Linked DNA regions of Homo sapiens. The protein of the gene in region 4 purifies or fractionates together with the protein of the main gene of each other region. This does not show direct contact. Each region holds a gene or a part of one and is shown on either strand. Other genes may lie near its edges.

Region 1 (4,930 bases), on a different chromosome or scaffold from region 4:
TCTTTTAGCAAAGTAACCATCTGTCCGTGCTATTCTGGGCAATTGGATCATGAACTACATCACTCTTTGGCCTACTGAGGGGTTAGAGATGTCATCAACAACTCTCATTGCAACCTTAAGCCTCCTTTCCTTCCAAGGTGAAGATGACCAACAAGGGGGCACAGATCAATCATATGCTCTTTAAACATGGGTTGGGAATATGAACAAGTTAGCTATATTAAAATAAACAAAGATATCTGGTCTGTTCCCACTACAATATGCCTCTAATGAATCTAACTTGAGACGCTAGAATTTTAATACATTATTTCAGGGAGACTTTCTTAAGGGAGCTATGACCTCAAAACCATTACTTGATTTTATCCCCATTTTATTTATACAGGAAAGGGGGCAGAAATATAACATGGTGTACAAGTATCATATCATATCATAGACAGGACTTGACTTCTCTAATCTTTTCTTAATGTTTTCCTGCCTTAAACAGAAATTAAACACTATCAACAGGGTGACCTAAGGAAACTCCCCAAATGATTCCTACTTCTTGAGCCACTCATCATGAAATCCTACATACAAAAGCTGAATAACAATCTTAAATCTTAAAGGGCTACTTCTTTCAGCAAACTATTATTCTGAAGACTAGAGAACATGTTGCTCTCAACAGTATTTTAGTGAACACATTAAATAAGAAGCAAACAGTTCGAGGGAGGATCCAAAAAAGAAATCAGGACAACAGACTGGTAAAGCTGTCTCTGGCGTCTCTTTCCACTAAACAAAGCGGCAAATACAGAACATTTACACCTATTTTTCTTTTATAAAATTTAAATGCTTTGGGCTGGGCACGGTGGCTCATGCCTGTAATCCCAGCACTTTGGGAGGCCGAGGCACACGGATCACCTGAGGCAGGGGTTGCAATGAGCCGAGAGCACATCAACTGCTCTCCAGCCTGGGTGACAGAGCAAGACTTTGTCTCAAAAAAAAAAAAAAAAAAAAAAAAAAAAAAAAAAAAAAAAAAAAAATTAAAATGCTTTGAACTTTAACATATCAGCCAACTTGTTTAGCAACATCATCAACTGATTCTCTTTTAAGCTTTTGGATCACAGGAGCCGTGTATTCAGCCAGTTCAGGAATAGCATGCCTGTCTCTCATAATTCTTGGCAAACAACTGCATTATCAAACAAATGTCAGCAGGAGGGTGGGGTGGGGGGCGGTAGAGGCAATTGGGAAATAAGACCCTAGTGAATTACTGTTCTCTGTCCACTTTCCATTCTAAACATGGGGAATGTGGATTCTATTATTAAAGCCATGGAATTTATAGGTAAATTCCATCACCACCTCTGGCTATTAAGGCACCCCAATTTTTCTTTCTAACCAATGTGTAAAAAATGTCTTTAAATGTAAGCAATCACAGGTGGTTAATGTTTAACTTTTTATTAAGAAACTAAGGCAAAACAACAGAATTCCAAAAAATAAAGATACAGAATTCTAATTTAAATTCTAAACAAATATAAAAATCAGAGTTTACCAGTATTTTTGAGTAGAGGGGAGTGGCTAAATGCATTCACAGTAATTATTTCTTCCTTACCAGCCTCAAGTTTGCAACCCTTTCCTTCCTGCTTCACTGGGACTAGAACAGAATTTCTCATTCATCTTTTGCTACTATAATTTTTGCTTCTATAGTCTAAAACTTCAGAGGAGCTTTTGTCTTTCTCCGCAGTTCTTTCTCTGTTCCTTCAGCAAATATGTGAGCACCTGCCTATTGGGCTTACATGTTGTGGCACAAAGATGAGTCCGTTAGAGATCCTGTCCCAGTTTAGGGGCGATATGACACCAATAAATAATCAATAAATAATTTTAAACAAGGTATAAATAAATACAGCATGAGTCAACTATAGATATATAAAACTAGGGAAATTTCAAGGAGAGATTACATTCAGCTAGAGAAACTGAGGAATGTTTTTGAGGACAGCATTTGGGCTGGGTGTGGGCTGTTCCTAATAAAGGCTTCCAAGTGGTCCTGATTATCTACCACAGTCCCAATTGTGGAACTGTGGTGGTCTCAATTTCTGGAAAGTAATCTTTTCAATGCTAACCTTTAAAACTCCTTAAATTTCTGGCCTGGCACGGTGGCTCGCGCCTGTAACCCCAGCACTTTGGGAGGCGAGGTGGGTGGTGTTGGCCAGGAGTTCAAGACCAGCCTGGCCAACATGGCATAAACCCCCTCTACTAAAAATACAAAGATTAGGCCCGGGAACAGTGGCTCATGCCTGTAATCCCAGCACTTTGGGAGGCTGAGGTGGGTGGATCACAAGGTCAGGAGTTCGAGACCAGCCTGGCCAACATGGTGAAACCCCGTCTCTATTAAAAATACAAAAATTAGCCAGGCATGGTGGCAGGTGCCTGTAATCCCAGCTACTCGGGAGACTGAGGCAGGAGAATCACTTGAACCCGGGAGGCAAAGGTTGCAGTGAACTGAGATCACACCACCGCACTCCAGCCTGGGCAACAGAGCAAGACTCCGTCTAAAAGAAAAAAGAAAAAAATTAGCCAGGTGTGGTGGCACATGCTACTCGGGAGGCTGAGGCACGAGAATTGCTTGAACCTGGGTGGCAAAGGTTGCAGTGAGTCAAGATCGTGCACTCCAGCCTGCGTGACTCTGTCTCCAAAAAAGAAACACACACACCACTCCCTAAGTTTCTATCTCTTCAAATTACTCACTTCTTCAAAATAACAAAAAAAAATTAATATTAATATGACAATCTACATAGTTTGGGGATTTAAAAGTTAAAGCTGGGTATAGTGGCATACACCTGTAATCCCAGCTACTTGGGAGGCTGAGGCAGGAAGACTGCTTGAGCCCAGGAGTTCAAGACCTGCCTAGGCAGTAGAGTGAAACCCTGTCTCCAAAAACAAACAAAAGTTCATTATACAGTAGTAGTTTCTTTATGGTTTAGGGCTCTGCTATTTTTGAAACTCTTTCTCCAGTCAAATAATTCTAAAAGGCAGAAAATGCCTAATCACTGAACAATGATTTTAAATATTAACTGGGTAAATCTTACTTTCTTTTGGTGTCTTATTGAATCCATATCTACACTTTATGTGAATGAGGGAGATGAAATAAATGGCTTAACATTTAAGTCAAATAATGAGAAAATAATGGCAACTATGAAATGACATTAACCACAAATTCCTTGTATGAAAAGATTTAATGAATTATGAGCCATTGATCATTACAAACTTTAAGCCTTAATATTTCTTCTTTCCTATGTAAAACCAGGTAATTAAAACAGCCTGTCTCAGTATGACAGAAGACCATAGTAGGGATAATAGTAACGTCTGCTTCCACATCTGCATGCTTCGTTAACCAACCAAAGAAAGTGCTCCAGGTTTCCCAAGTCAACAAAGTATACTCAGTTACACTTTCCCTGATCATACTATGAATTGAAACAGAACACTCCTTTGACTTTTAATAGCACTTTTCATCCACGGCACAAGCACTTTCCCATTATTTTCTCCTTTACCCTCAATATCCTTGTGAGGTAGTGAAGGGAGGGAGCAAGGATTTTTTTTTTTCTATTTTGCAGATGAGAAAACTCAAGGTGAATTTTACAACAGTGGTTCTCAACCTTGGCAGCATATTGAAATGACCAGAAAGTTTTTAAAAATCCTTATGACCAGCTCATATTCCAGACCAACATCAGAATCTTGGCATACGGAACCCAAGCATCGATGTGTCTTCCAACATTCCAAAGTGACTACAAAGTGTATACAGCCAACACTGAGAACCACTGGTTTGAATGATTTACACTCAATCTTCAGGCGCAACTGTCTTCTACCGAAATGCTCTCCTCAGCACCAATGACAAAGATATTCCATCTCCTTGAGCACTGCAGCAGTTTAAGATTTTGTAGAGCTACTACTGGGTTTTAGTGACAAATTTACGTAAATGAAGGCCCTCATGACCCAGATGCTCATGCTGCTCACTTCAATTGCATATGATTTGCGAATGGGACATTCGGGAATTTAAATCTTTGAGATAAGAATGGCTTGTTGTTAAATATTGAGGCAATTATTTCATTCTAGGTCCAATACGCAATAACCATGTGTTTCGGTTTTCCACTCAGCACCTTCAAAACTGTTGCAAATGAATGTTTACTAACAAGACAAAAGAGACAATTATAAACCAAACTCTCAACAAAATTCGGAATGGCCACATCACAACCTGAAAAAGAAACAAGTACTTAAAGGACTTGATCACTTCCTAACAAGTCCATCTTCAACCTGAACCACTTCTCTTGTTTAATCAAATTTTAAACTTTGCCGAACTGAGTTGTTCTACACCAAGAAAAATCAATTTCTATACCACCTACATTCTCTAATACATTTAACATATAATTTCACTCAATACAAGGAGGTTTCTTCTTAACCTGGACATCGAAAAGAATCTTTAACAGATTTCATCTTTTCAAGCAATGTATCAAATACACAATAAATACTTGTAAACTTTTCAGGTGGCAACAATAAATCTTTGTTCTATGGCTGAAATCCCTTGCTTCACAGGAGTATTGACAATCTTAACTCCCAAGGAGCAATCCAAGAATCCCGGCCAGCTGCTGGGTGTCCCTAATCAGATTTAAAACAAAACATACATACAGCAAGAACTCAGAAGTACAAAGATTTCGCTCGCTTTTGTCAATTCTTATGTATCTAAAACCATACAATTTATACTTTCATACAGAAAGATGTCTGTTTCTTTTCTAACAAAAGAAAAACTCTCAGCTCATGTGGGTTGGATTATTAATTCAAAAGCATTTTAGTGATGAGAAACAAGATTTGTAAGTCAAAATAGGAGTTAATGTTAAACTCTTCTACAACGAAACCTTCAAATATTGCCAACCTGAAGTTTTCAGCACAAGGTGTTGTATTTCAAGTCCCA
Region 2 (4,897 bases), on a different chromosome or scaffold from region 4:
AAGGGGCATCATATACTTCCTTACACATAGCAGGTAGTCAGGAAAATATCTGTTGATTACATTTAAATTTTTTATGTGATTGGTTTCTTAAATAAGTAGATGGAATGAGTTATTTCAAAGGCCTTTTCCAAATGTTATCTTCTGCTTAAAATGTAATTTAAGCCACATAAATAGTGTAGTTAGATCAATGAGATTTTAAATTCAAGAACAGAAGTCTTATCTTTGATCTATGTATTCCCTTTGAAGCTTCATATTTTCTCCCATAGCAGGTGATCATGGAACTATCTCTGATTATAGTTATTATTATGGTTATTTCTTTGCTCAGCTTTTCAAGTAGAATTGAACATTTTTTTAATATGAAAACACTGAACTATTTTCAAAACCCATTATGAATTATATAATGTCTCTCCATTTCTTGCTATCTAAATGTACGTTATAAGAACAAGTGAACAATTGGGAACTGGGTACCCAAGTGAGTGAAATATTCTGTTCCTTAGTTTTCCTTAATGCGACTTTTAATTAGCTTTCCCATGCTTTAGATACTAAATTTATGAAGAATAAAAGTTAAAAGCCAAATGCTAATCTTGTATCACTGCTTGTCTTGTATACTACTTGTCCTAGGATTTCTATATTACAACTAGGAAGATATGAATTAAAACCACCAAAGAGACTATAACCATAAATAACTTATGACATATGTTCCATTATTAATTGAAAACTCATAGTTAATAAACTTTGGGAAGGAAACTTTCAGGCACATGGCATGGAATATGAAGGTGATGTTCTTTTTATAAATTTTAAAGGTAGCATATATTATACAAATTACTCAAGAGTTTACAAGCAGAAAAAAAGGAGAAAAAATAAAATTCACGCGCACCCTATATTAACATGTAATTCGTAGTGAAATGTGTGAAATATAAACACATGACTTTCACTTATTCATTTTCACTTTACGCTTTTTAATTGAAATTAAATTAGTCACTTAACATACATAATGCAGTGTTTGTTTTCCAGTCTAGTAGCTTTTCAGCATTCAGTTTTGTGGCTCATGGGAAATGTTACTTAGCATCAAGATGTGGTTTGATGAGTGAACAATGTCAGTATCAACTGTACTTAACAGAAGACAGAGGGGCTGGGGTTAATCTGCAGCTAACAACATATAAAAATAAAAACAAACACAGACCCACAATAACATCAACATGCATTATTAGGCAAAGATCCAAAATTAACCCAACCCACACAGATTTCTTCTAAGCTGAGATTACACATGGAAACAGATACTTTATCAAGATCCATAGCCATAGTAGTAAGGTTCATCAGGGCGGAATCCATATGCTGTGGCAGGGCGTCCAAGAATGCCAACTGGTTGGCCAAAGCCATCCATTCCAAGGCTAAAAAAGAAAAAAAAGAATGATAAGCTATGTTTTTCATCACACATCCACAATGCAGATTAAGAGGCCTACATTTTTATACCACCAAGATTCTCTTCCTAGCAGGGATAGTGATTTAGGTGGATATCATTAACTTTTTTTTTTAAGGTTAATAGAGCCATTAAAAGTGTATATAATAAAATACTTCTAACAATGTGTGTTAAAAGTATGGGAAACCTCTGTCAGTAGGTACTATTTGAAACAAAGTGGAAGAATCAAATCAGAAAAGTTTTATTTAATAAATTACTTATATATGGCTCTTAAGCAAAAATATGAAAAGATTTTACATGCTAGCAATGATCAGTAATATATTGCTAGGGAATGATAAAAATAAAACTGTAGTAAAGTGAGTTTTGCTGTTTATAATGTCTTTTCATATGAAGATACAGGACTAATTCCACTTTTAGTAAAAACATGTGTTTGAGTTATATCAGTGAACTCTCATGCAGGGCCAAATCATACCATAAGCCTATGATTAAAAGAACAAGATAAGGAATTTGACAAAATTTGAAAATTAGTCAGATTTGATCTGCAAATCCTTCCTCTGATTCCTCAATGCAAACAATTACAAAACATATCTATTTCTTTTGAGTGACAGCAAGACAATTACAAATTTTGGTTCAACTTATTCTATGGGAATAACAGAAACCCAAAGATAACCTTCAGAGTTGTAAAGATAGCTTGAAGTATGTTAAACTTCATGATTATTATTTTAAAAAAATTACTTGTTGGTCTATTAATACATTATTTAGAGGAAAATCTGTTCTCCAAAGTCCTTTTTAAAGGTCAGGGAATTATCCAACACTTAGGAAAATGATAAAGTATTTATTTTGCCAGGCAGAACATGGTGGCCTTAACATGCTCATGCATAGCTCATGCAGTGAATGCTAGTGAGCTTGACTTCCAATCAATGGACACCATTTGTAATGCAGAAATGTAAGCTTTGGAAAAATAAAACATATTTAAATGATTTAAGATTTAAGTTTGCACTACATGAGATGGAAAGATAATTTTCCCTCAATAGCAAAAACTGAATGTGATGAAAAAATATATTCACATAGGCACTAACTCCCTGTCACACTCAGAGTGAGATTAAGTTGACACACTTTAGAAGTAACTATTAAAATGTTAAGGTTTTAAATAAATGTGTGAATGCGTGTGTGTGTTTGTGTGCACGCGTGCTTGTGTGTATTAAGATGGAACTAAAGAGTAAATGTAAAGAGCCAAAATACATATAACACATACTGGTCCAGTGACTCTGCCCTTTAGGAGAATGGAAGTTCTGAAATACAAGTTTCAGGTTAGCATTTGTACTGAGCGATTCTGGACAAAATTTGTTGTTTTGGGGTCCTTCTATATAAAAACTCTGTCTATAGTTTCTCAAAGTTGGTTGAAATTTTTAAGTCTACATTTTATTTTGAAATGGTAAAAATATAGGCACTTTTTCTAACTTTGATCTCATGGGAAGAGAGACTAAATTTTGTGATGAGGAAATCAAGAGGTAGCTTAAAAGATGCTTCAGAAATTAGTGGAATCAGTGAACTAAGAGACACTGGTATCAGCTTAAAATTAGAGAAGTTATTGAAAACTGTTCTCTGCAAGCACTAAGGCTAACAAGTAATCATGTATCTAAAGAACTCTCAATTATATAACTGTTGATTACATAGCTTGGATTTCAACTTGTTCCTTCTTCATCTTTTGCTTATTACCTGTCTTCAACCAGTCCTTATCTTTTTTAGCAACTCCTCTGAGGCCAAATAGCAGTAGACTTAGGTTAAACTCAAGTTAATCTTATGCTTGTTTCTCAATCTAGGGGCTATGGCAAGATCTATTTCAGTAATATGAAAACAAGAGGCATATGTGGGACAGTGAGGAAACATGCAAAGGCACCTTCAGAGTATCTCACAGACGACTTGTTAGCAATATCACTGTAATTCTACCTAAAAGAAGATGGTCCTCAGAAGGGAGTTCACCAGTCATTGGCACAGAACAAGGAGCGTCTCAGCTACAACGCTGGTTGTAGCAACCTAGGCAATTGCGTGGTGATCTGGTAAGCTATAACACCATAAGGAATATCTGGCCTTTTTGCAGTTTGGTCCTCAATCAGGAAGGGAATTTAACATTCTCAGAGTCTGAGGCCATTCTACATTCAAGTTGCAAAATTCTCCCCCTTTTTTTTATTTCTACGACTAATAGGCAAACTATTGATCACTGTAATTTCCCATGTAATTTGCCAACAGGTTAAATAATAAACTTAGATATTACCTAATCCACCTGATGGTTATAACTTTCATTGTACATTAACAAATGGATTTTTCTTTTTAAAATATGTCATGCACATTGTTGATAAAAACCTGCAGTCCCAAGTCAGTGAAAGACTGGCCCTTGAGCACTGATGAGTCTGAGTTTCTGAACCTGTAAATCTCTGGTCTTGAACAGTATGGTCTTTAGGTTACTATGGTAAAGATCTATTTATGTAGTCAGCAGTTCACCCAGAGACATCTGTGTGTATTACAGTGTAGAGGATATCATTTAATTTTTCGAATTTCTATATACAAATATCGTTTTGGAAAAAAGGAATAAAATTTGAAACCAAACTCTAAAATGATCTTTTCTGGAATTCTCCATTATGTATCACAGATGAACTTGCTGTTTAAAGCAAAAAATATTTAAAACATTTATGATCAGTTTGGAGAGTACTTTGACATAGGTCCTAGGTCCTTTTGTATTATGAAAAATCAACTATATCTACATACATTTTTAATTAAATTCACTGTGAAACATAACAGTTTGTTTCTTTAAACTCTCATTTGCTTCTTTCTAATATAGTGGGGGAAATCAGGCTTTCTAGGATGCTAAAACCTGGAGACATTCTTTTGGAATATGTAGACACTTTACTTTTTTCCTTGGGAAAAGGATACAGCCTTGCTAATGCTGAGTTTAGTTCAAAACCCGGAGAGTTTTCCTTTAAACAGAAGCAGATAGATTCTTCATGTAAGTTCTTGAAAGAGATAGAAACTATGAATATAAAAAGGCAACGTTGCAGGAAAAATTGTGCTTTCCTGATCTGGAAAGACTTGACTTCAATAGTGTGTATCACAGGAATTTGTATGCCCTCACTAGGGGCCCTGAGAAGCAAGGAAAAGTAAGCTGTGACATGCCACATCTGCTCTTGCCTTGTGTGGCCATTTTGCTTCAGATAATAGTTTGAATATGTGGCTATTTATAAGTATACTGGAATTCAATCCAATCTTGTAGGGTGCATGTCTCTGTATGTACATAGTTTCTTCTTGCTACTCCTAACCCACATAAAATGTGGTGTATCCCTCTAGACTAGTATATGCAACTATTATAGTACTTTTTCTTTATAGGATTACTTATTTAGTGCCATTTCACCTTTTTCCTTCGTATTCAGATAACATATTTTGGACCTTTGAATCACCAAAATAGTGTCTCTTCCTGAAAAT
Region 3 (4,530 bases), about 100 Mb from region 4:
AGCTTATTGTAACTGTCCTCTGAAATTGATCAATTTTTGCTTTAACCATAATATTAAATGCATACTTAATAAATAAGCCTCAAAAACACTACATATCAGCCAGACACGATGGTTCACGCCTGTACTCCTAGTGCTTTGGGAGGCTAAGGTGGGAGGATCACTTGAGGCAAGGAGTTCGAGACCAGCCTGGCCAACATAGGGAGACCATTGTCTCTACAAAAAAATTTTTAAATAGCCAGGTGCATGGTTCACACCTGTAGTTCCAGCTACTCAGGAGGCTGAGGTGGGAGGACCACTTGAGCCCAGGAGATGGAGGCTGCAGTGAGCTATGATTGCACTACTCCAGCCTGGGCAACAGAGCAAGACCCTCTCTCTAGGTGGGGAAAAAGGTACATATCCAGTACATATCCTTTCACTTAGAACTTCTACTTCCAGGAATCTATTCTTAGTAAATAATCATGAGTGTGTACCAAGACTTAGCAATCATATGTTCTTACAGCATCGTTTATGATAGAGAAAAATTGGAAGCAACTTAAATGTCCATCAAAGAGAACTTGATAAGTAGGTCTTCACTAAGTGGAATGCTATGCAGCCATTTAAAATGATGATGTCAGAGAGTATGTGACAGCAGTGAGCAATGAACAAGTTTCGTTAGGCTGGAAAGGGCAGGTTTCTATGCAGCAATATGTATTACGCTGGCTTTTTAAAGTACATATGTGTATGTAGATGTGCTTAAACAACAGGCTAAAAGAACAGACATCAAAATGTTAATAATGCTTAACTATGGATGGCCGTATGATTGTTTATTAATTTTATGTTCTTTTTCCCCTCTCTGTATTTTCTAAACTTGCTTCAATGAGCATGTATGTTTTTAAATCCTTTTTAAAGAAGACCATAGAGCCAGGTGTGGTGGCTCACACCTGTAATCTCAACACTATAGGAGGCTAAGGCAGGAGGATCACTTGAGCCCACGAGTTCAAGGCTGCAGTGAGCTATGATCACACCACTGCACCCCAGCCTCAGCCACAGAGCGAGACACTGGCTCAAAAAATAATAATAATAAATAAATAAATAAAAATAAAGCAAGCCATCAAGTGTAAGGTTAAGAATCAGCACTCCCAGCTATACTCGTGTTTCTCCCTGCCCCCACCCTGGCGAGTGGCTTTGTCACTGTGGCAACCGAGGGTCTTCAGATGACATGTGCATCTCCCAGGGTGACGTGTGGTATGAATGGGGTTTTCTGACAAGGAACCATGAGATATGTCTTACATTGCTGATGAAGCCCTAACCCTGGGCTTATAAACGGATTATTTCTTTCTCATTCTTCTTACCAAGTAGACATGTGGCTACTGCCCAGAAGGTTACCCATTTACCTTCTCCAGGTTACCATGGTCCATGCGTATTCACAGATGATCCAGAACTCTCCTCTTTGCTCATTTCTGGCAGAGTCCGTCTCAGCTGATGAGTTAAAATGTGACATTTCCTCCCTCCCCCCGCCCCATGCATGATGATTTCTTCTTCAGTTATGCTCTTTCCCAAAGACATCAAAACAAGAGTGATTGTTTAGAAATTACCCTCGTCCTACATTTGCTCCCAATCTGTTTGATCTTTCCCTGATGTTATCAGTGATGTGCGTTTCTCCCGGGGTGCTTACGCCTTGTATTTGTGTCTTCCTCCGTGCCCAGTCCCGGCTGACGAGCCAGAGCGAGGCCATGGCCCTGCAGTCGATCCGGAACATGCGCGGGAACTCCCACTGTGTGGACTGCGAGACCCAGAGTAAGTGTGTGCGGTGGTAGCAGGGGCTGGCGCTGTGTAGCTGGAGACCACATGGTCCCACTAGGCCCGGGTTGCAGGGGACTCACATCTGTCCTGTTTGGCAGATAAGAGTTAACTGCTTTTAGGAAATTGAGATATTTTGTTTGGATTTTACCTTAACAGAGTGCCTTCCACACAAGCCTCACCCCTGGCTGCAGGGTGCGTTTCTGTGAGTCTTTCCTTGCCTTAGGCATCCGATGAGCAGCAGTCATACCTGAGGTGCAAAGGATTCAACCCCACACCCACAGCCTGTGCCAAATCTAGGAAGCCCAGGAATTCAAGACGAGCCTGGGCAACACAGGGAGAACCCGTCTCTACAGAAAATTAAAAATTAACTAGGCGTGGCAGCTGGCTTACTTTTTGCTTAATCAGTGATCACTTGTTGATTTTTTTTTTTTTTCATAAAAATAGAATATAATTGGTTCATTCCTGCCTAGAGATTCTTGGGTATTGTTTTTTTAAATTCACAATCATATGTTCTGGGTTTTGCCATCAAATGATGTCTTGTTTTTTTTTGGTCTTAAATCCATTACCCACTAAAGCCTCTGATTGAACTGATAGAAGTTGTAATTACTGCTTTGTGCCATCGAGTACCCCAGTTTTATTTCATGATTTCCGTTGTCTAATCCATACTATTACTTTCCCTTTGAAAAAGTCATTTTGTTGTTCATAATCTTGAGAGTAGGGACTTATTTTCATGGTTGCAGTCCCAGCCCAGAGACAGTATTGGAGACATTCAGTAAATTTCTTCCCTTCAGATTTTTTTTGTTAAGTAGTGTTTTGAAGAGAAGGAAGTTCAGTTCAAACAAGGTAAGAGGTGCTGGTACCAGGCTGGGTGCTGCCCAGGAGTCAAACGTGCATGGCGTGGTGGGTCCTGCCATCCTGAAGCCTGAAATGCACTGGACAAGGCACCAACCTGCTGACCATGGAGCTAAGCGCTGGGGAGAGCCATCGGGGGCATGCGGCGGTCTTGCCACCCATGCAGGAGCTGTCGTGTCAGCAGGGCTCTGGAGATGGGCAGGGTTTGTACAGGGAAGGGGCCGAAGGAATCACTGTGAGCAAAGGGAGTGGCTTGAGGAGAGCTTCTCTGGGTGGTTGTAGGATTAGAGATGCTTTTTGGGCTGGAAAACCAGTAGAAGCTAGTTGGAGTGTGAGTGCCAAGTGAAACTTTTTCCAGCTTTGTTCTTCATTTGTAAGCAGAGAGACATCATTGGAGTTTTAGAGCAGGAAGGAGATGGACCCTGAGCTCCACTTGGGGAGATGGATCTGGCCAGACCATTTTGAACATACTGGAATAGAGGCAAAGCAGGGAGGAGGCCAGCCAGGGTCGGCTTGGCCGGGAAGGGAGACAGGAGCCCAGGACTGCTCCAGACAAAAGGGAAAGGAAGCGCCCCCTCCAAGAGTCCACTCAGCAGCATAGCAGGCAGGGGAGAGATCAAAAGTCTGTCTGCGGCCTCTCTGGAAGCCTGTCCTGCGGGTGAGGGAAGGGGTTCTTCTCCAGGTATCTTGAGGTTCTTCTTTAAAGTACCTCCTTATGTTTGAATGTTTAAGTTTTACTTTCAAATGTGTGGTGAAATGAAGTTCGAAGAGAGAAGCAGTTATTTGAAGTGTGTTTCTATCAAAAAGTTTTAAAAGTAAGAGCTTTTTTAAAAGCACGAATCTGAGAAATATTAGAACATCCATTAAGGAAAATGCCTGCAGTTGTTTCCACCGTGCGTCTGAAGGTCGCTTTAAAAGGAAAGCCATCCGTGGCTTGCGGGGACCATGATACCTGGCAAATCGGAGGTCGCAGGTCCTGTCTGAGATGAGCTTGTGCATGTGAGTGCGGATGGGGGGTGGGAAAGGGAGGCCAGTGCAGGGGAGGTGTGGGCCAGTTTGTTCTGAGCAAGACCACCTGAGCAGATGGACAGGGACAAAGGGAAAAGGCAGAGTTTGACAATTCAGGAGAAAGAGGCGATACCAAGCACGCATTTGCTAAATGTGTGGTCTGTGTCAGCCCGGTGCCAAACCCTCCCATGCGCTGTCTTTTCATTCTGCAACCCTAGTAGTTGGTGCCCCTGTGGGCCCCACTTAAAGGGGAGGAATTGAGGAGCCTGAAGGGTCAAGTCATTTGTCTGAGGTCACAGAAATAGCAAGTCCCAAAGCAGGATTCAAACCCATCTGTTGTCCAGCCTGCTGTATTTTCTCAAGAATGGAAAGGCTCAGAAGATGTAGCACATTGGCAAGGATTTGTTAAGTAAAAATACCCAATTTTGGTTAAAGTACCGGGATAGGTACAGTGCCCACACTGATGATGAACTGTAAACACCTCCATGGGGCCTTTCGACAATGTATATAAAAAGCTTTTGAAGAGTGGATGCCCTTGACTCCAGCTGTATACTCCAGGAACTAAACCAATGGGATTGAGTAAGGCGGGTGCAGAGATCTGTCTTTCCAGATGTTCATCACAGTGCTTTACATGGCAAAAAATCAGAAGCATCCCAAATGTCTAACAATTGAAGAGCAGTTCATGGTGATGTCTTGTCTTTGCTACCTTTAAAAATCATGGAAAAAGACTTAATTGAGCCTGGGCACGGTGGCTCACGCCTGTAATCCCAGCACTTTGGGAGGCCAAGGTGGGCGGATCACCTGAGGTCAGGAGTTCGAGACCAGCCTGGCCAGCGTGGTGAAACCCCATCTCTACTAAAAATACAAAAATTAGCCGGGCATGGTGGC
Region 4 (3,500 bases):
GTAATCAAAACAAAAATAAGCACTATGCATGTAATTAAAACTGCGATATAATTATATTGAAGAATAGGGATGCTCTGGGAGGTACAAAAAGATATATTATAATCTACCATAATAATAAAGAAGTAGTACTTTGACATACACACAGAAACATATGATTTAGGAATATTACATAAAAACAGCTGAAGAAAAAAAAAACTCAGAAATGGGGTAGAGAGGGTGGCCCAAGAGACTGTAAGATTTTATATAAATATACACACACATATATATATACACATATAGAGAAACACATACTCAATGTTTATATATATGAGCATGTTAGAGCTATTGTTTAGTACTAATATTCATATATATACATAGATATATAAACAATTTACTATTGTTGGATTTTCTGATTTATGAGCATGTATTACTTTGACTTTTTAAGTTGCTACAAAACCAGTTAGCACTGACAATGGAAACCATTTGAGAAATGCCTTTTGGGCTGGCCTGGATCAGTTCTATGTTTCTAGATTCAATTTGCCAAATGAAGCAAGTTGCCTTTATGGAGCGGTTTGTCAGACATGCGTCTCGACAGTAACACTTGTTCCCACATTTCAGAACTAACAGCTCTTCTTTCAACACCGTAATATTTATCTGCCATGTTATTATTCCCAGTGTATGCTCCAAAATGGGCTTGGGACTCTCCTCTTTCCTCTTGAACTCAGTCCACTGGGCTTCTACAATGCATCCAAATTCTCCTCAAAGGAATCACTAATCCGGTAAAGTTGATTTCTAAAAGGAGAGATCTGGTTTCTTGCCCTGAAAATACCAAGATTAATTTATGTAACTACGGGGAAGTACCCTGTGTAATTGAGGCTTCCAAACTGACACGATACACTTCATTAGGCAAGTATGTATTGGGGCATTGTAAATGTGTGGGTAATGTTCTATGTATCTGAGAGATTTATTATTTCATCTATAAAGGAAGGACAATTGGGAATCCAAAATTCCAAAGGCATTAAACCCTGTAGAGTTAGAGAACTGGAGAAAAAGAAGGCTATAAGGTACTTTGTGCTTAACTGGGTCCATGACTTGCCAGAGTGTTCAGACTAAACCCTTCTGGCTATTTAAATCCACTTTCACAAAATGCTACCATTTCCTTAGGTTACCATTTTCAGGGACCAACCAAATGGCCAAACATTATTTCCAATTTTTTCTTTGTATCTAATCCCTGGATTACACTCTTGACCAAACTTTACTAGGCCTACCAAAACCCACACCAAGAATGTAAATAATCTTGATGTTTAACCATAAACTTGGGCTACTCTACAAAAAGATTCAGGTCTGGCCGGGCGCAGTGGCTCACGCCTGTAACCCCAGCACTTTGGGTGACCGAAGTGGGCAGATCACGAGGTCAGGCTATTGAGACCATCCTGGCCAACATGGTGAAACCCTGTCTCTACTAAAAATACAAAAATTAGCTGGGTGTGGTGGCACATGCCTGTAATCCCAGCTACTTGGGAGGCTGAGGCAGGAGAATAGCTTGAACCAGGGAGTCAGAGGTTGCAGTGAGTCGAGATCATGCCACTGCACTCCAGCCTGGTGACAGAGAAAGACTCCATAAAAAAAAAAAAAAAAAAAAAAAAAAAAAAGATTCAGATCTCTGAGATTAAAGGAAAAATAAAAATAGTAAAGGACTGCGCATAGGCGTTAGACACTTTGGAAAGACTAGAAAATGTGAATTGCCAGTTTGAATGGGTGGAAGTATTAATCTGCTATACTGCTCTGCCAGTGCAGTCAATCGGGGCAGATGTGAATGACCAAAACGTCATTGTGGGTGAATGTGAGGCTCATGAAGCCTCCATATCCAGAAAGCGGTAAAATGAAAGGTTAAGAGTATGCACTGTGGGGTTGAGTGCAGTGTCTCATACCTGTAATCCCAGCACTTTGGGAGGCTGAGGCAGATGGATCATTTGAGGTCAGGAGTTTGAGACCAGCCCGGCTAACATGGTGAAACCCTATCTCTACTAAAAATACAAAAATTATCTGGGTGTGGTGGCAGGCACCTGTAATCACAGCTAACCAGGAGGCTGAAGCAGGAGAATCACTTGAACCTGAGAGGCGGAGGTTGCAGTGAGTGGAGATCGTGCCATTGCACTCCAGCCTAGGCAACAAGAGTGAAACTCCATTTCAAAAAAAAAAAAAGTACGTGCTGTGGGTTCAAATCCTGCCTCTGCCTCTTATCCACCCATGTGACTTGTGCACATTACTTAACCTTTCTGAGCATCAGTATTTTTGCTTGGACAATGAATACAATGATCATAATAAGATAGCATGAGCACAGAGCTTGAAAGTGTGCCTGGTATACAGTAACCACTCAATAGTGATTGATGTTGGAAGAAAACATTTTAAATCTGTTTTTATTGTGCCCATCAACCATGTATCCATACATTTTTTTCATTTATTGAGAACTCATTGTGTGCCAGGTGCTGAGTTTACAAACTACACTTAAGATTACAAATTTGACAACTCAAATTTGGCAACGACTCTATCTCAAATTCACTAGAATCTAGTGGCAGCAGCGGAAGGTAAAGAAATACTTTTAAAATGGGGCTATGCAGTGTAAGCATCCCAACAGAGTTTAGATAGAATACCATGGGGTGTGACTGTTTCTTCATCTGAGAGAAGTAAGAGGGGAGACAGAGCAGGGAACGTTGTCAGATGAAGCCAAGGAACGTGGAAGGATTTCAGAATGCAGGACCGCAGTCTTCTCTCTTAAGTAGGGAGGGAGACACCACCTGAGGGAGGAGCACAGGCAAAGCTGGGACTCAAGAGTGAAGCAAGGCTCACAGGTGCCACCGTGGGAAAGGGGTAGGCACAGGGCAGGAGTCAAGTGGAAATGAAGGCATTCAGTGAGCAGTATTCATCCGTCTACTCAACAAGTAATTCCCTAAGGGCAGTGTCATGCATGGTGCTAAGTTTGGGGAGTCAGTTGGCAGGTGTGCCCTCGTGAGACACAGAGGCTGAAGAGGGGAACAGAAGCACAGTGAACCAATGCGGACGGAGTTCCATGGTGCACAGGGACACCTACCTGCGGTGACTGGGATGTGAAAAGCTGCTCACAGGACAGGAGGTGCATGCAAGATATGGAGGATAAACTGAGTGTGTGGAGAGGTGCTGCAGGAGTACAAAGGTGCAGATGTGCTGAAGAACATACAAGCCCAGCATATTTCAGTAATAGAGAGCAGCTCCTGGTAGCTAGGCCAGTAATTCCCATCGAAATCATCTGAGGAACTTTTTAACCATGGCTGGATCTGAATCCCACCTTAGAGGTCATGATTCAGTAAGTCTGGGGTGGGACGTGGGCATCAGCAAGATAAATAATAACTGTAGCTAATACTCATTAGCACTTAATGTATGCCTAGCATTGTGCCTATTGTTTTAGCTACATTAAGATATCTAATCCTTCTCCATCTTCCCATGAAGGAGGCACTCTCATTATCCACATTTTAAAGAAGAGA
Region 5 (4,530 bases), on a different chromosome or scaffold from region 4:
GCATCACAGACGACCCCGTCCAGCGATGAGAATGTTGGGTGCACACTGGAGTGGCTGCGAGTCATGACCTGGAGACTTCGGAAACTCAACAAGACTGCAGGGCACCCAGGGGCACCAGCCCCGGTCACCGCAGAGGATCAGTGCACTTTGCCATCTGGCAGATCAACTCATGGCACAGCTGTGACACATCACATTCACGCTTGTGAACCGAGACGCCATACCCCAGCGGTGCCGAGAGCAACAGTGCTGTGCAGGTCTGGGCAGATGAGGGCCTCCAGGACACGAGGACTCACTCGCTCACCCTGCCCACTGGGCAGCTGCTCGCCACTCCCCTCCTGGAGGGCAGGACGGACACCACACACACACACAAGCAGGGAGGCTGTGCAGCAGTGGGGAGAAGGCATGGGTGGGAGGGTGCCGCTCCACCCAGGGCAGCATCTGAGAGAAGGTGAACGAGGTGCGGGACAAATGCCGAGGACAAGAGCCAGCAAGAGGGTGGGGCCAGGTGGGTCTGCGGGTGAGTCCGGAGTGTGGGGCCTGCAGATGAGTCCGGAGTGTGGGGCCTGCAGATGAGTCCAGAGTGTGGGGCCTGCGGGTGAGTCTGGAGTGTGGGGCCGGGTGGGCCTGCAGGTGAGTCTGGAGTGTGGGGGCTGGGGTGGGCCTGCGGGTGAGTCTGGAGTGTGGGGGCTGGGGTGAGCCTGCGGGTGAGTCTGGAGTGTGGGGGCTGGGGTGGGCCTGCAGGTGAGTCTGGAGTGTGGGGGCTGGGGTGGGCCTGCGGGTGAGTCTGGAGTGTGGGACCGGGTGGGCCTGCAGGTGAGTGTGGAGTGTGGGGGCCGGGGTGGGCCTGGGGGTGAGTCTGGAGTGTGGGACCGGGTGGGCCTGCAGGTGAGTCTGGAGTGTGGGGGCCGGGGTGGGCCTGGGGGTGAGTCTAGAGTGTGGGGCCGTGGTGGGCCTGCAGGTGAGTCTGGAGTGTGGGGCCGGGTGGGCCTGGGGGTGAGTCTGGAGTGCCGCAAGGCTGGGGAGCTGGGCAGGAGCGTGACAGGAGTGTGGGGGAGGCTGCAAGCCAGCAGGGCGTGCAGATGGCTGCATGGGGGCGTGAGTGTGGCCCCATGGGCACCCGAGGCCTTGGACTGCACAATGTGAGGCCGCCTCCAAGGCTGGGAAGGGAGCCTTGTGCTGGGGTTGAATTCAGCCAGGGCTGAGGCCCATGATGCCCCAGGTGGGAGCCACACACATGTGGGTGGGATTTAAGCCGTGGAAAGAGAGAAGACCCCTGGTTAGACAGAAGCAGGGAGGAGGTGGGCTGAGGAGCCGTGGCAGGGAGCAGCATGGGAGGGAGGCCTGTGGGGCCAGGCGCATGGCTGGGCATGGGGAGGCTGGGCCCGGGACAGGGCCATGGGGCACAATCCTCTCGCACAAGTCCTGCCTGAGAGGTTCTCAAGTGTTGTCATCTCAGTCAAATGGAACACGGACGCCACCTTAACCCGAGTCAGGTGAGGCTGTGCTCCCACAGCAGGATCTGGACAGGGGCAAGGGCGACGGGCCCAAGTGCTGGTCTGGGAGGCTCCAACTGCCATGGGCCCCCACAGCAGTGGACAACTGCCCGATGGCAGAGAGGCCGCCCCAGCTAACCTGGCCCAAAGGTGCCAGAGGGCAGCACCGCCCAGCGTCTGCTCAGCTGTAGCCACAGAGGGCAAGGGTGCCACGTGTTTCTACAGGGTGCCACAGAAAACACGGAAAACGCACCCCGCCTGAGATAAAGGCAAAGCTCTCACGAGGAAGCAATGGAGCATGTGTCAGCGCAAAACCCGGGGTACAGGTATCGGGCGGGAAAATCCTAAGCAGGATGTGTGCAGACACCACAGGGAAATGAGAAGAACCTGGAGAGCCGCTTAGACACTGACTTCCTGCCTTCAGAAGGCTAAGTCCCAGGTGCGTTTCCACAAAGGGTCAGGGCCTCTCAGCTGGGGAGGAGGCCCTCACCACAGCGCAGACACACACACGGGGTGGGGGAGAAACACGCACATTGGGGGGGGGGGGGCACACACACGGGAAGGGGACACACGCACACAGGGGTGGGGACATGCACATGGGGGGAGGGGGACACGCACACGGGGAGGGGGACACACACACACACTGGAGGGGGGACACACGCACACGGGGGTGGGGGGAGGGGAACACAAGCATACGGGGGTGGGGGGAGGGGAACACAAGCATGTAGGGACACAGGCATGCCGGGGGACATGCCACAGGGCGGCTGGCCATAGGCCTGGGGCCAGCTGGGGCGCTGTGCCTGCGTCTGGCGGGCACCCACCTCGATGCCGCTCTGGCGCGCCAGCTTGACAGCCGTGTTGTAGTAGCCGCAACGCAGCAGGTGCTCCACCATCATGCGATCCATGCGCTTCCTCTTCCACACGCTGGCCGCCGCGGGCTGGTCGCTGCTATGCTCTTTGAGGTGCTCGATCCGGCGCTTGCACAGCTTGGCGCTCTCGTCCTCGGCCTGGATGGATTCCACCGCCTGAGCCACACACAACAGAGGCACGTTCAGGACAGGGATGCCCCGCAGCCCTGCACCAAGGGAGGCCAGGCTGCCCCAATCCACAACACTCACAAGGAGAAAAGCAGGGATTACGGGACAGAAAAAAAACCGTGCTCTACCGAGTCCGCTAGGCAGGTGTGCCTGGCCCAAGAGCTGCAGACGGAGGCAGTGAAAATCCACCACCCTGGATCTGCAGCTTCTCTCTGCTATTTCTGGCTTTATATTAATATACCCTGAAGCCATGTTGCCAGATGCATACAATTTCAAATTTGCTATGCCTTTCTGGTTAAACTGTTTATCATTATAAGGTGACTTTAAAAAAATCTTTTGCAATACTTTTTTTCTTAAAGTCAATTTTGTTAAAAATGAATCGGGCTAGATAGAAACGTTCCAGGCCTGTGCTGCCCAACACAGCTGCCACCAGCCCACGTGGCTGCCACACACTTAAGGGCAGTGGTGCAACTGAGGAACTGAATTCTTCGCTAAAAATTTGACAGCACACACGGCGACTGACTACTGGACAGATCCAGGATCCGGGCTGGCTTCTTTCAGCACATTCTACCAATTTTGGCTTCCAACTGCTGTGCAGAAATCAGCTGTCCGGCTGTCTGTTGCCCCTTTGGAAGTCATCTTTTGCCCTCAGGAGCTTTTCAAATATTTCTTTGTCTCTGTTTTCTTCAGTTCCACCACGGGAAAATCCCATGTCGGTTTATTTTCACTTACTCTGTGTCGGATTCTGACCTGGTGGTACTCATCAGTTCTGAAACCTTGGTCACTCTCCCCGCACCATCTCTGTCCCCACCCACTGGTGGGCTCTGGTGAAACATGCCACAGGTTTCTGCTCTATTCCATGCTTTACTCTCGCAGCCACTTTGATTTTTCAGTCTCTGTGCTCCATTCTCGATCACCCTCCAGTTCACTAATTCTGTCTTTAGCTTTGTCTGTTAACTGTTAAACTGTTATAGGCAAATGTTGAGTTTTTCATTTTTGGTTATTATATTTCCCATTTCTTGAAATTTTAGTCCCTTTTAAATTCTGAATTTTTTTTTTTTTTTGGAGACAGAGTCTCTGTGCAGGCTGAAGTGCAGTGGTGCGATCTCAGCTCACTGCAACCTCCAGCTCCTGGGTTCAAGTGATTCTCCTGCCTCAGCCTCCCGAGTAGCTGGGACCACAGGCGTACACCATGCCCGGCTAATTTTTTTGTATTTTTAATAGAGACGGGGTTTCGCCATGTTGGCCAGGCTGGTCTTGAATTCCTGACCTCAGGTGATCCGCCTGCCTTGGCCTCCCAAAGTGCTGGGATTGCAGGCGTGAGCCACTGTGCCTGCCCAATCACTTTTTTAAGACAGTGTCTCACTCTGTTGCCCAGTCTGGAGTACAGTGACACAATCTCTGCTCACTACAACCTCGACCTCCTGGGCTCAAGCGATTCTCCTGCCTCAGCCTCCCAATTAGCTGAGACTACAGGTGTGTGTCACCACGCCTGGCTATTTTTTGTAGAGATGGGGTTTTGCCATGTTGCCCAGGCTGATCTCAAACTCCTGGGCTCAAGCAATCTACCTGCCTCGCCCTTCCAAAGTGAGCCACAGTGTCCAGCCTTAAATCACTTTTTATACTGTCTGTTCCCTGCAGAGACTTTCAAACTTTTTTTTGAGATAGGGTCTCGCTGTCGCCCAGCTAGAGTGCAGTGGCATGATCGTGGCTCACTGCAGCCTTGACCTCCTGGGCTCAAGCAATCCTTCTGCCTCAGCCTCCTGAGTATCTGCTGGGGCTACAGGAGGGCACCAGTACGCTTGGCTATTTTTAATGTTTTGTGGAGATGGGGTCTCCCTGTGCTGCCCAGGCTGGTCTCAAACTCCTGCGCTCAAGTGATTCTGCTGCCTCAGCTTTCCACAGTGCTTTCCAGGTGTGAGCCACCGCGCCCAGCCTGCTTCTGTTCTTTAAGCACAGTAAGGTGTGGCACCTGGCAGCCCCTGCACCTGCAGTCCGTG
Region 6 (4,530 bases), on a different chromosome or scaffold from region 4:
CCTGCACGTGTATCCCCCACAACCCAAATCTAAAATAAAAGCTAAAGCGTAGTCTAACTTCATTTATAACTAACCAGAGAAACAAACCGTATTAAAGCTGGACGTTAGGAGTCAACCAGCATCATATTATCAAGTGTGTAGTCATGACCCGTTAGTAGATTAAAACAAAACAAAACAATATCGTGGATTGGAGCTAGCATTTTTTTAATGGAACTAAATAGGATTGATTTGCAAATATCAAGTGTATTGAAGGTAGTGAGCGCTTTATTTTATTTTATTTTATTTTTGAGACACAGTCTCTCTGTCGCCCTGGCTGGAGTGCAGTGACGCGATCTCGGCTCACTGCAACCTACACCTCCCAGGTTCAAGTGATTCTCCTGCCTTAGCCTACTGAGTAACTGGGATTACAGGTGCGCGCCACCACGCCGAGCTAATTTTTTTGTATTTTTAGTAGAGATGGTGTTTCACCACGTTGGCCAGGTTGGTCTTGAACTCCTGACCTCAAATGATCTGCCTACCTCGGCCTTCCAAAGTGCTGGCATTATAGGCATGAGCCACCGCGCCTGGCCATGAGGCTGTTTAAAGTAAAACTTTGAAAAGTGAAACTTTTGATTCATTATATGTATACACATACACGTATAACACACATCTATTCTTTTTATTTAAAAAAATAAAAAATAAAGATAAATGTAAAAAATCAACCTTTGGGAGCACAGAACATGGAAAATATATATAGGTGTCCTGGTCAAAAGTTCAAGAGGTTCCTAAACTTTCTCAGTTCACAGACCCCTCAGTATGCCAGTTATTTTTTTCATGGAACCCCTAGGCCAAAAAAATACCTAACAGTTCCATTTACTAAGTAGTTCAGTCCACAACCTAAAAAGTATTTATAGCCTACCAACTTAGTAGCAGATCGAAAAATAAATATGTATAAATTGAAATAAATATTTTTATTACTAAATTACCACAACTACTTAATAGGATGTGTGTACCTACTAGATATTACACAAGTTCTCAAATCTTGAAATCATTTTGGACACCACCACCTTCATTTACTGTTCCAAATTGATTTTTGCATAGTACTTGCTTTTTATCACAGCAAACTCCCAAAACCTAGCGTTTGGAAGACACAGTGTCATCAAAAAAAATGGAACACAATCTCTTGTGTGGTATCTCAAACTGGTAGTTTGAGTAGTGTCCTATAGATGTCAAATATCCCACAGCTATCCAATATTGCTGTTTCCATTAAAATTTCTCAAATAATGCATAGTGTCCAGGTGAGTTACTATGGTGCTCCACAGTACGGCAGGTCCTCCATAACATAGTTTCATTCAATATCATTTCTTCACAATTTTGATGAGAAAAAAATTTTGATTTCCCCACCAGGGCTACCATCTATGTGGAGCCTGCATGTTCTCCCCATGTCTGTGTGGCTTTTCTCCGTATGCTCCAGTTTCCTCCCACATCAGAGAGGTGCACGCATTAGGTGAACTGACATGAATTGGCATGTCTATATGGTCCCAGTCTGAGTGAATGTGGGTGGGTGGGTGGGTGTGTGTGTGTCTGTAAATGCTACCTGCAATGGAATGGCAGCCTATCTTGTGCCCTACTTGCCGGGACAGGCTCCAGCCACCTGCCATCCTGAACTGAAATAAGTGGGTAATTATCTTGTTTTTAGTATTTCTTAAATGTATGCATAGGACCCATTTATTTCAATGTTTAATATTAGAGGTGTTTGGGGTCTTAGAAGTTGCAGTTTCCAAGTACTTATGGACAACATTAAGTGAGGATTTACTTCAGTGCACAGTTTAGGAATACTGGATTTAAGAAACACTGATCTAGCCTACGGGTTTACTTTGTAAAGTAAGAAATAAGACTTAAGGCTACAAAGCTAGGAGAAAAACAAATATATTTATTATAGATTTTCCTAAATTTCAACCTTCTGCCAACAAAAGTTTTTTTGTTTGTTTGTCTGTTTTGAGCCAGAGTCTTCCTCTGTCACCTAGGCTGGAGTGCAGTGGTGCAATCTTGGCTCACTGCAACCTCTGCCACTCAGGTTCAAGCAATTCTCCTGCCTCAGCTTCCCCAGCAGCTGGGATTATAGGAGCCTGCCACCATGCCCAGCTAGTTTTTTACTTTTAGTAGAGATGGGGTTTCCTTATGTTGGCCAGGCTGGTCTGAAGCTCCTAATCTCAGGTGATCTGCCCGCCTCAGCCTCCCAAAGTGCTGGGATTATAGGCATGAGACACCGCACCCAGCCAACAAAAGTTTTGTTTGTTTTGAGATGGAGTCTTGCTCTGTTGCCCAGGCTGGAGTGCAGTGGCAGTCTTGGCTCACTGCAACCTCCACCTCCCTGGTTCAAGCAATTCTCCTGCCTTGGCCTCCCCAGTAGCTGGGATTACAGGCCTGCCACCACGCCTTGCTAGTTTTCGTATTTTTAGTAGAGATGGGTTTCGCCTTGTTGGCCAGGCCGGTCTCGAACTCCTGACCTCAAGTGACCCACTTGCCTCGGCCTCTCTAAGAGCTGGGATTACAGGCGTGAGCCACCAAGTCCCAGCCCTTCCATCAACAAATGTTTTGACACAGGATCTAATTATGAGACACTCTGTTGATGAAATGTGTAGATCTCTAAAAATCACATTCAAAAATACATTTATATCACTATTTAATAGAAGAAAAAATTTACTTCCTTTTTTTAGAAAAAAGTTTCAAAAATTATAAAAGTGATTCTTACAATAAAACCATACAAAAATGTCTAAAGTAAAAAAGAAAAGTCATCCACTCCCTCAGGAATAACATGTTTAATGTCTATCCTTATAGACCTTTTTCTATTCACATGCAAAATGAAAACAAAACTACATTTGTCTATGTGTTTTTTAAATAAATCATATTCTATAGTATAGTGCAACTTATTTTTTCACTTAATTTTATATCATGAACATTCTTCCAAGTCAATACATAATTGTAACAGCAAACACTTATGTGGCGCTTATTAATGCTTATTTAGGGCCTAACTGTTAACTCATTTAATTCTCATGGTACCCCTGTAACATGAGAACTACTAGTATATCCAATTTATAGTTGACTTTAAGTAATTCGCCAAGAGTCACAGCTAGAAAGTAGTGCAGTTAGGTTTTGAATCCAGAAGGTCCACCGCATGGTTCCAGGAGCTGAAGGATATGCTCAGCTGCTGCTCATGAAGTAAATATAGATACCCTGAAACCTGTTAACAACTGCACAGTAATTCACAGCATAAAAATACTAGACTTTTAACTATTAGCCTACCAACAGACATTTAGGACATTTTTAAATTATTTATAAATGTTATTGACATCTTGAAATAATGCTAATATAAACATTCTTATACAATTCCTATGCTGTTAAAATTTATGTAACATAAATTTTAAGCAGGAAATGATTCTATCAAACAATATATATACTTTTAATCTTGATAGGGAATGCCAAATTTCCTTCCAGAAGGTTGCTCCAATGGTATCAATTTATAGTCCCAACTACAGAGGAAAGGGTTCAGATTCATTTTTAAGTTAACACTTTGGATTCATGAAAAAAAAGGCCCATTTTGAGTTTTTAATTAATACTGAATAGACTGCCAAGTTGATCACAATTATGTTCTGATTTTATAATTATCTGACATATTAAACAAATGTAGACTTAGCAGCTGTGCAATGGATTCTTCTCCCAGTTATGAAATCAACTATGCATGAGATATCGCCCCTATACAACCTTCTGTTTTCTTATGTATAAAATATGGGAATTGGACTAGCTGGCCTTGAAGAATTTAAACTCCCAATACTGAGATTAAGAAGTGACTTAAAGTTATTACAAGGCTATAATTATAGTACTAGTATAACAGGTTAGGGTCTTAAAGTTTATATTTTCTTTAAATTACCGTAACCTGTTGCCAGAGCACCTAGGCAAATCATTAAAATAGTAAATGAAGTTTCCACTGTGGCTTATTCCCAGTGGCTTTTTAATCCCAGGCTGTCATTCCCTTGCTACCCAGCAAATCTGAGCATATCTCTGGAATATATTCCCAAGAGTTGAGGTGTGCTTAGGAACTAAGAACTAGTCTTTTGTTTTGTTTTGCATTTAAAATATTATTCTGGGACTATTCTTTAGTCAATTTCTTCAATTAGTATTTATTGACTATGTTACCATATGCTAGGCACTGGGTGCATAATAGTGATTAAAGGATCTCTGCCATCATGGAACTTACAGACCAGATGAGAAAGGCAAAGAATAACTCAAAATAACCACAAGTAAATGTAAAATCACACTTATGATAACAATGAACAACAACAACAACAAATCAATACAGAAAAAAATACTATGCAATCTGATGATTTTTTTACACTATAACACTAAAATTTGCCTCATGTTGCAAAAATAACAATCACAATTATATGCAGAGAATTAACTTTTTAAATCATCAGTTGTCTCAACAATAAAATCATCAAGATATTACTACTTTTCAGTTATGTTACTGATCATGTGGCTTGAATGTTTGTT
Region 7 (4,530 bases), on a different chromosome or scaffold from region 4:
AGCAGCTTTGTTGCTACTGATATGTCCTCATTATAGACAGCATAGTGAAGAGCAGTGTTGCCATGGACATCCGCAAGATTTGGATCAGCACCATGTTCTAGCAGAATAGTTGCACATTTCTCTTCCTGGCATTGTACAGCCTGGGAGTATTAGACCAAGAAACAGATCATAAATTCTAGGAATGCAAAATAAACACTCCACAGGTTTCACCAATTAGTTATATTTTAATGAGATAAATTCATTTTCATTCTATGTATTTAAGTCAAATCCATCTGATGCTGAAAGAGCTGGCTACTATATACCTTCATCAGAGCTGTCCTGTTTTCGTTGTCACAGACATTGAGCTGGCATTTTCTGTCCACCAGGAGAGTTACTACTTCTGGATGACCATTGGCACAGGCCAAATGTAGAGCCGTCCTATGAGAGTGACAGGACTTTTTATAAACTGTAGTGCACTGTCTCAAAACATACAATGGTTCATAAAATTATAAACATTAAATAGCATGTTGATATGGTTTGGCTGTGTCCCCACCCAAATCTCATCTTGGCTGTGTCCCCAACCAAATCCCAAATTGTAGTTCCCATGATCCCTACGTGTGGTGAGGGGGACTCAGTGGGAGGTAACTGAATCACGAGGATGGTTCCCCCGTGCTGCTGCTCTTGTGATAGTGAGTTCTCACAATATCTGATGGTTTCTTAAGGGGCTTTTCCCTCTTTTGCTTGGCACTTCTCCTTGCTGACACCATGTCAAGGACATGTTTGCTTCTCCTTCTGCCCTTATTGTTAAGTTTCCTGAGGCCTCCCCAACCAGGCTGAACTGTGAGTTAATTAAACCTCTTTCCTTTATAAATTACCCATATAATAAAGGGTATGTCTTTATTAGCAGCATGAGAACAGACTAATACACATGTTAATCCTCCGCCTTCAAAACAAGTATTTAATTTTCTTCTGAAAACAGTACAATATTTATTAGCTCTTACTACTCACCACATTAATGAAAGAGCAACCTATCTGAATAGAAAAGGCTTGACCTTTAGATTCAGTTCAACTTGGGGTTGAATCCTACTTTAAGCTGTCACTTACTCATTATGGCTTAGTAAGTGCCTCAGTTTCCTCATCAATAAAATGGGGATCAAAATAGTAGCTATCTCATAGGACACCACTGGGATGCTTACATGAGAATCTATGCAAAATGTTTAGAACAGTTCCTAGCACAAATAACAGCTCAATAATTGTTAGATATAATTACCATTACTACTGTTTAATAAAGATGTTTTAATTAAATGAAATGATACAATTATACCTAGTTGACAGTATGTTTTAAAGATCAGCGATAAGGCCAGGCATGGCGGCTCATGCCTGAATCCCAGAACTTTGGGAAGCTGAGGTAGGATGACTGCTTGAGTCCAAGAGTTTGAGACCAGCCTGGGCAACATAGTGAGACTCCATCTCTATAAAAATTTAAAAAGTAGCCAGGCATGGTGGTGAACACCTGTGGTCCCAGCTACTCAGGAGGCTAAGGCCAAAGAATCGCTTGAGCCCAGGAGGTTGAGGCTGTAGTGAGCTGTGATTGTGCCACTGTACTCTAGCCTGGGCAACAGAGAGAGACCCTGTCTACAAAAAAAAAAAAAAAATTAGAGATAACACAGTATTTCAGTGATTCTAAGATGCTCATTTTCTCACATTTCAATATCTCTGACATTGGAATGCCACTTGTAATTCATGATTTATTACAACTATAATTGGAAGCATTTTTAAAATTGAAAAACAGATTTTTAAAACAAAGTAATTCTTATTGTGTTTTCAAGAAACTTCAACACAAAAGAAACTCAGGATTCAAATGAATAGGTTGGCTCATTTTATTCAATATTTAGATTTATAGAATATATGCAGATATTTCCAATGACTAATATTCGTGTTTAAGACATAAATTTTCAAAAGGGTAATTAAAGGTTATTTCTTATAATTTTCTACCTTCAGAAACACTTTTGTTTATAAAGAGGGGTTGGGTGCAGTGGCTCACGCCTGTAATCCCAACACTTTGGGAAGCCAAGGCAGGCAGATCACTTGAGGTCAGGAATTCAAGATCAGCCTGACCAACATGGTAAAACCCCATCTCTGCTAAAAATACAAAAAGTAGCCGGACATGGTGGTACATGCCTGTAATCCCAGCTACTCGAGGGGGCTGAGGCAGGAGAATCACTTGAACCCTGGTGGCAGAGTTGGAGTAAGCCGAGATCATGCCACTTTACTCCAGCCTGGGTGTCAGAGCATAATCTCCTCTCAAAAAAATAAATAAATAAGAGGAGGGAGGAAAAGCTTCAATTGAGATTGCCCTAATAGTCTAATTTTAAATCTCTCAACTTGCTCAGGCTGGGCAGGTATGCAAACATAAAGGTTTTGAAGATGGAAAGGTCCTGAGAGATAGTAGACTATGTTTTCACCTGCAATTGCCTTGACCTGAATGAATGCACTCCACTCTGGCCTTTCTTTCCTCTTAGCTCCTAAGGAATCCACAGATCCACTTTGGATTACCCTCTTCTAAGGCCTGCTCACACCCTTAACAGGACTTTTCATATGGGATCCCAAATGGATTCTCCCTCCCACCAACAGCTCTCATACTTGACCAGAGCTCTCATCTGTCCTCTATAAACATCCAAACATTCTTTGCCAAAACAAATGCTAAGAGACCAGACCAGTCTCAACACAGGAGCCAAGCAGCTCACCAGAACTTCTCTCAGGCTTGATTTCCTGGGGATGAGTTAAATACCTGCTTCCAGAAGTGCAGGAGATTCACATCAAGCTCTATGAAGACAGTTTTATATGAGAAATCAGCAACTTTCCATCTTCCCTGACAGCTCTGTAAATTTGTCATAAAATGCATTCCCAAATTCATAGCAGATTAGCTACATTATGTATTACAATGCTAATGCAAGACTGAAATAGTTTAGAACACCACACAGCACTTATATACATATATATGAAGTTCCTGTTGTGAAAGGGGAATAAATATCATATTCATGACTAAAATAGGGATTCACCTCTGACAGAAAAGAATTTGCATAGAAGTAAAATCCTCACTTCAAAGATATCAACTCTGGCCTGGTGCAGTGGCTCATGCCTGTAATCCCAGCACTTTGGGAGGCTGAGGCAGGCAGATCACCTGAGGTCAGGAGTTTGAGACCAACTTGGCCAACGTGGTGAAACCCCGTCTCTACTAAAAATACAAAAAAAATAGCCAGGCATGGTGGTGGGTGCCTGGAATCCCAGCTGTTTGGGAGGCTGAGGCACGAGAATTGCTTGAACCTGGGAGGAGAAGGTTACAGTGAGCCAAGATCATGCCAACTCACTCCAGCCCAGGAGACAGAGCGAGACTCCATCTCAAAAAAAAAAAAAAAAGAAAAAAAAATCAGCTCTGCAAATCTTCATGTCCACTACTGTTATGTTTCCAATTCAAAGATCAAGTCTATATTCTACCACATTTTATTAAAATACTACGCACTTACATTAATATGCTTATAACTAGCGGTGGTTCACGCCTGTAATCCCAACACTTTGGGAGGCCAAGGCAGGCAGATCACTTGAGGTTAGGAGTTTGAGACCAGCCTGGCCAACAGGGTAGAACCCCATCTATACTAAAAATACAAAAATTAGCCAGGCATGGTGGCACGTGCCTGGAATCTCAGCTACTAGGGAGGCTGAGGCAGGAGAATTGCTTGAACCCAGGAGATGGATGTTGCATTGAGCCGAGATCACACCATTGCACTCCAGCCTGGGCGAAGAAGCGAGACTTCACCTCAAAAACAAAAAAGGCCAGGCGCGGTGGCTCAAGCCTGTAATCTCAGCACTTTGGGAGGCCGAGGTGGGCAGATCACAAGGTCAGGAGATCGAGACCACCCTGGCTAACACAGTGAAACCCTGTCTCTACTAGAAATACAAAAAAAAAAAAAAATTAGCTGTCCCAGCTACTCAGGAGACTGAGGCAGGAGAATCGCTTGAACCCAGGAAGCAGAGGTTGCAGTAAAGCTGAGATCTGGCCACTGCACTCCAGCCTGGGCAACAGAGGGAGACTCTGTCTAAGAAAAAAAGAAAAAAGAGATAGTAGACTATGTCTGCTACATAACAGGTATTCAGGTTATGATTGATGAATAAATGGATTGAAAGAATGGAAAAATCATTAGGGAGTTCAATATTTTTAAATAAAATTCTTATAAAGTAGAGTAATTCTTTTATTCTTTTGCAATAATATTTATCTTTTTTTTGTTTTGTTTTGTTTTGTTTTTTTGAGATGGAGTCTCGCTCTGTCACCCAGGGTGGATTGCAGTGGTGCAATCTCAGCTCACTGTACCCTCCGCCTCCCAGGTGCACGCTATTCTACTGCCTGCCTCAGTCTCCCAAGTACCTGAGACTACAGGTGTGTACCACCACACCTGGCTAATATTTGTATTTTTACTACAGAAGGGTTTCACTACGTTGGCCAGGATGGTCTTGAATTCCTGGACTTAAGTGATCCACCCTCCTCAGCCTCCC

What was found.
Region 1: the proteins of NCKAP5 (region 4) and FBXO45 purify together in Homo sapiens (affinity purification with mass spectrometry; one large-scale study listed by BioGRID and IntAct). This does not show direct contact.
Region 2: the proteins of NCKAP5 (region 4) and KIFAP3 purify together in Homo sapiens (affinity purification with mass spectrometry; one large-scale study listed by BioGRID and IntAct). This does not show direct contact.
Region 3: the proteins of NCKAP5 (region 4) and AGAP1 purify together in Homo sapiens (affinity purification with mass spectrometry; one large-scale study listed by BioGRID and IntAct). This does not show direct contact.
Region 5: the proteins of NCKAP5 (region 4) and MAEA purify together in Homo sapiens (affinity purification with mass spectrometry; one large-scale study listed by BioGRID and IntAct). This does not show direct contact.
Region 6: the proteins of NCKAP5 (region 4) and CEP350 purify together in Homo sapiens (affinity purification with mass spectrometry; one large-scale study listed by BioGRID and IntAct). This does not show direct contact.
Region 7: the proteins of NCKAP5 (region 4) and ANKRD26 purify together in Homo sapiens (affinity purification with mass spectrometry; one large-scale study listed by BioGRID and IntAct). This does not show direct contact.

What each region holds. Positions count from the first base shown.
Region 1 is NC_000003.12:196,585,539-196,590,468, reverse strand, and holds the end of FBXO45 (F-box/SPRY domain-containing protein 1), read right to left. Parts: 3' UTR 1,410-4,930; downstream 1-1,409. UniProt on the Homo sapiens protein: Component of E3 ubiquitin ligase complex consisting of FBXO45, MYCBP2 and SKP1. Functions in substrate recognition but also plays an important role in assembly of the complex.
Region 2 is NC_000001.11:169,920,391-169,925,287, forward strand, and holds the end of KIFAP3 (kinesin-associated protein 3), read right to left. Parts: intron 2,713-4,897; coding exon of another isoform or gene 2,676-2,712; intron 1,392-2,675; coding exon 1,286-1,391; 3' UTR 939-1,285; downstream 1-938. UniProt on the Homo sapiens protein: Involved in tethering the chromosomes to the spindle pole and in chromosome movement. Binds to the tail domain of the KIF3A/KIF3B heterodimer to form a heterotrimeric KIF3 complex and may regulate the membrane binding of this complex.
Region 3 is NC_000002.12:236,039,066-236,043,595, forward strand, and holds part of AGAP1 (arf-GAP with GTPase, ANK repeat and PH domain-containing protein 1), read left to right. Parts: intron 1-1,685; coding exon 1,686-1,776; intron 1,777-4,530. UniProt on the Homo sapiens protein: GTPase-activating protein for ARF1 and, to a lesser extent, ARF5. Directly and specifically regulates the adapter protein 3 (AP-3)-dependent trafficking of proteins in the endosomal-lysosomal system.
Region 4 is NC_000002.12:133,561,964-133,565,463, forward strand, and holds part of NCKAP5 (nck-associated protein 5), read right to left. Parts: intron 1-3,500.
Region 5 is NC_000004.12:1,313,385-1,317,914, reverse strand, and holds part of MAEA (E3 ubiquitin-protein transferase MAEA), read right to left. Parts: intron 2,519-4,530; coding exon 2,315-2,518; intron 1-2,314.
Region 6 is NC_000001.11:179,957,203-179,961,732, reverse strand, and holds part of CEP350 (centrosome-associated protein 350), read right to left. Parts: intron 1-4,530. UniProt on the Homo sapiens protein: Plays an essential role in centriole growth by stabilizing a procentriolar seed composed of at least, SASS6 and CPAP. Required for anchoring microtubules to the centrosomes and for the integrity of the microtubule network.
Region 7 is NC_000010.11:27,093,383-27,097,912, forward strand, and holds part of ANKRD26 (ankyrin repeat domain-containing protein 26), read right to left. Parts: intron 418-4,530; coding exon 303-417; intron 141-302; coding exon 1-140. UniProt on the Homo sapiens protein: Acts as a regulator of adipogenesis. Involved in the regulation of the feeding behavior.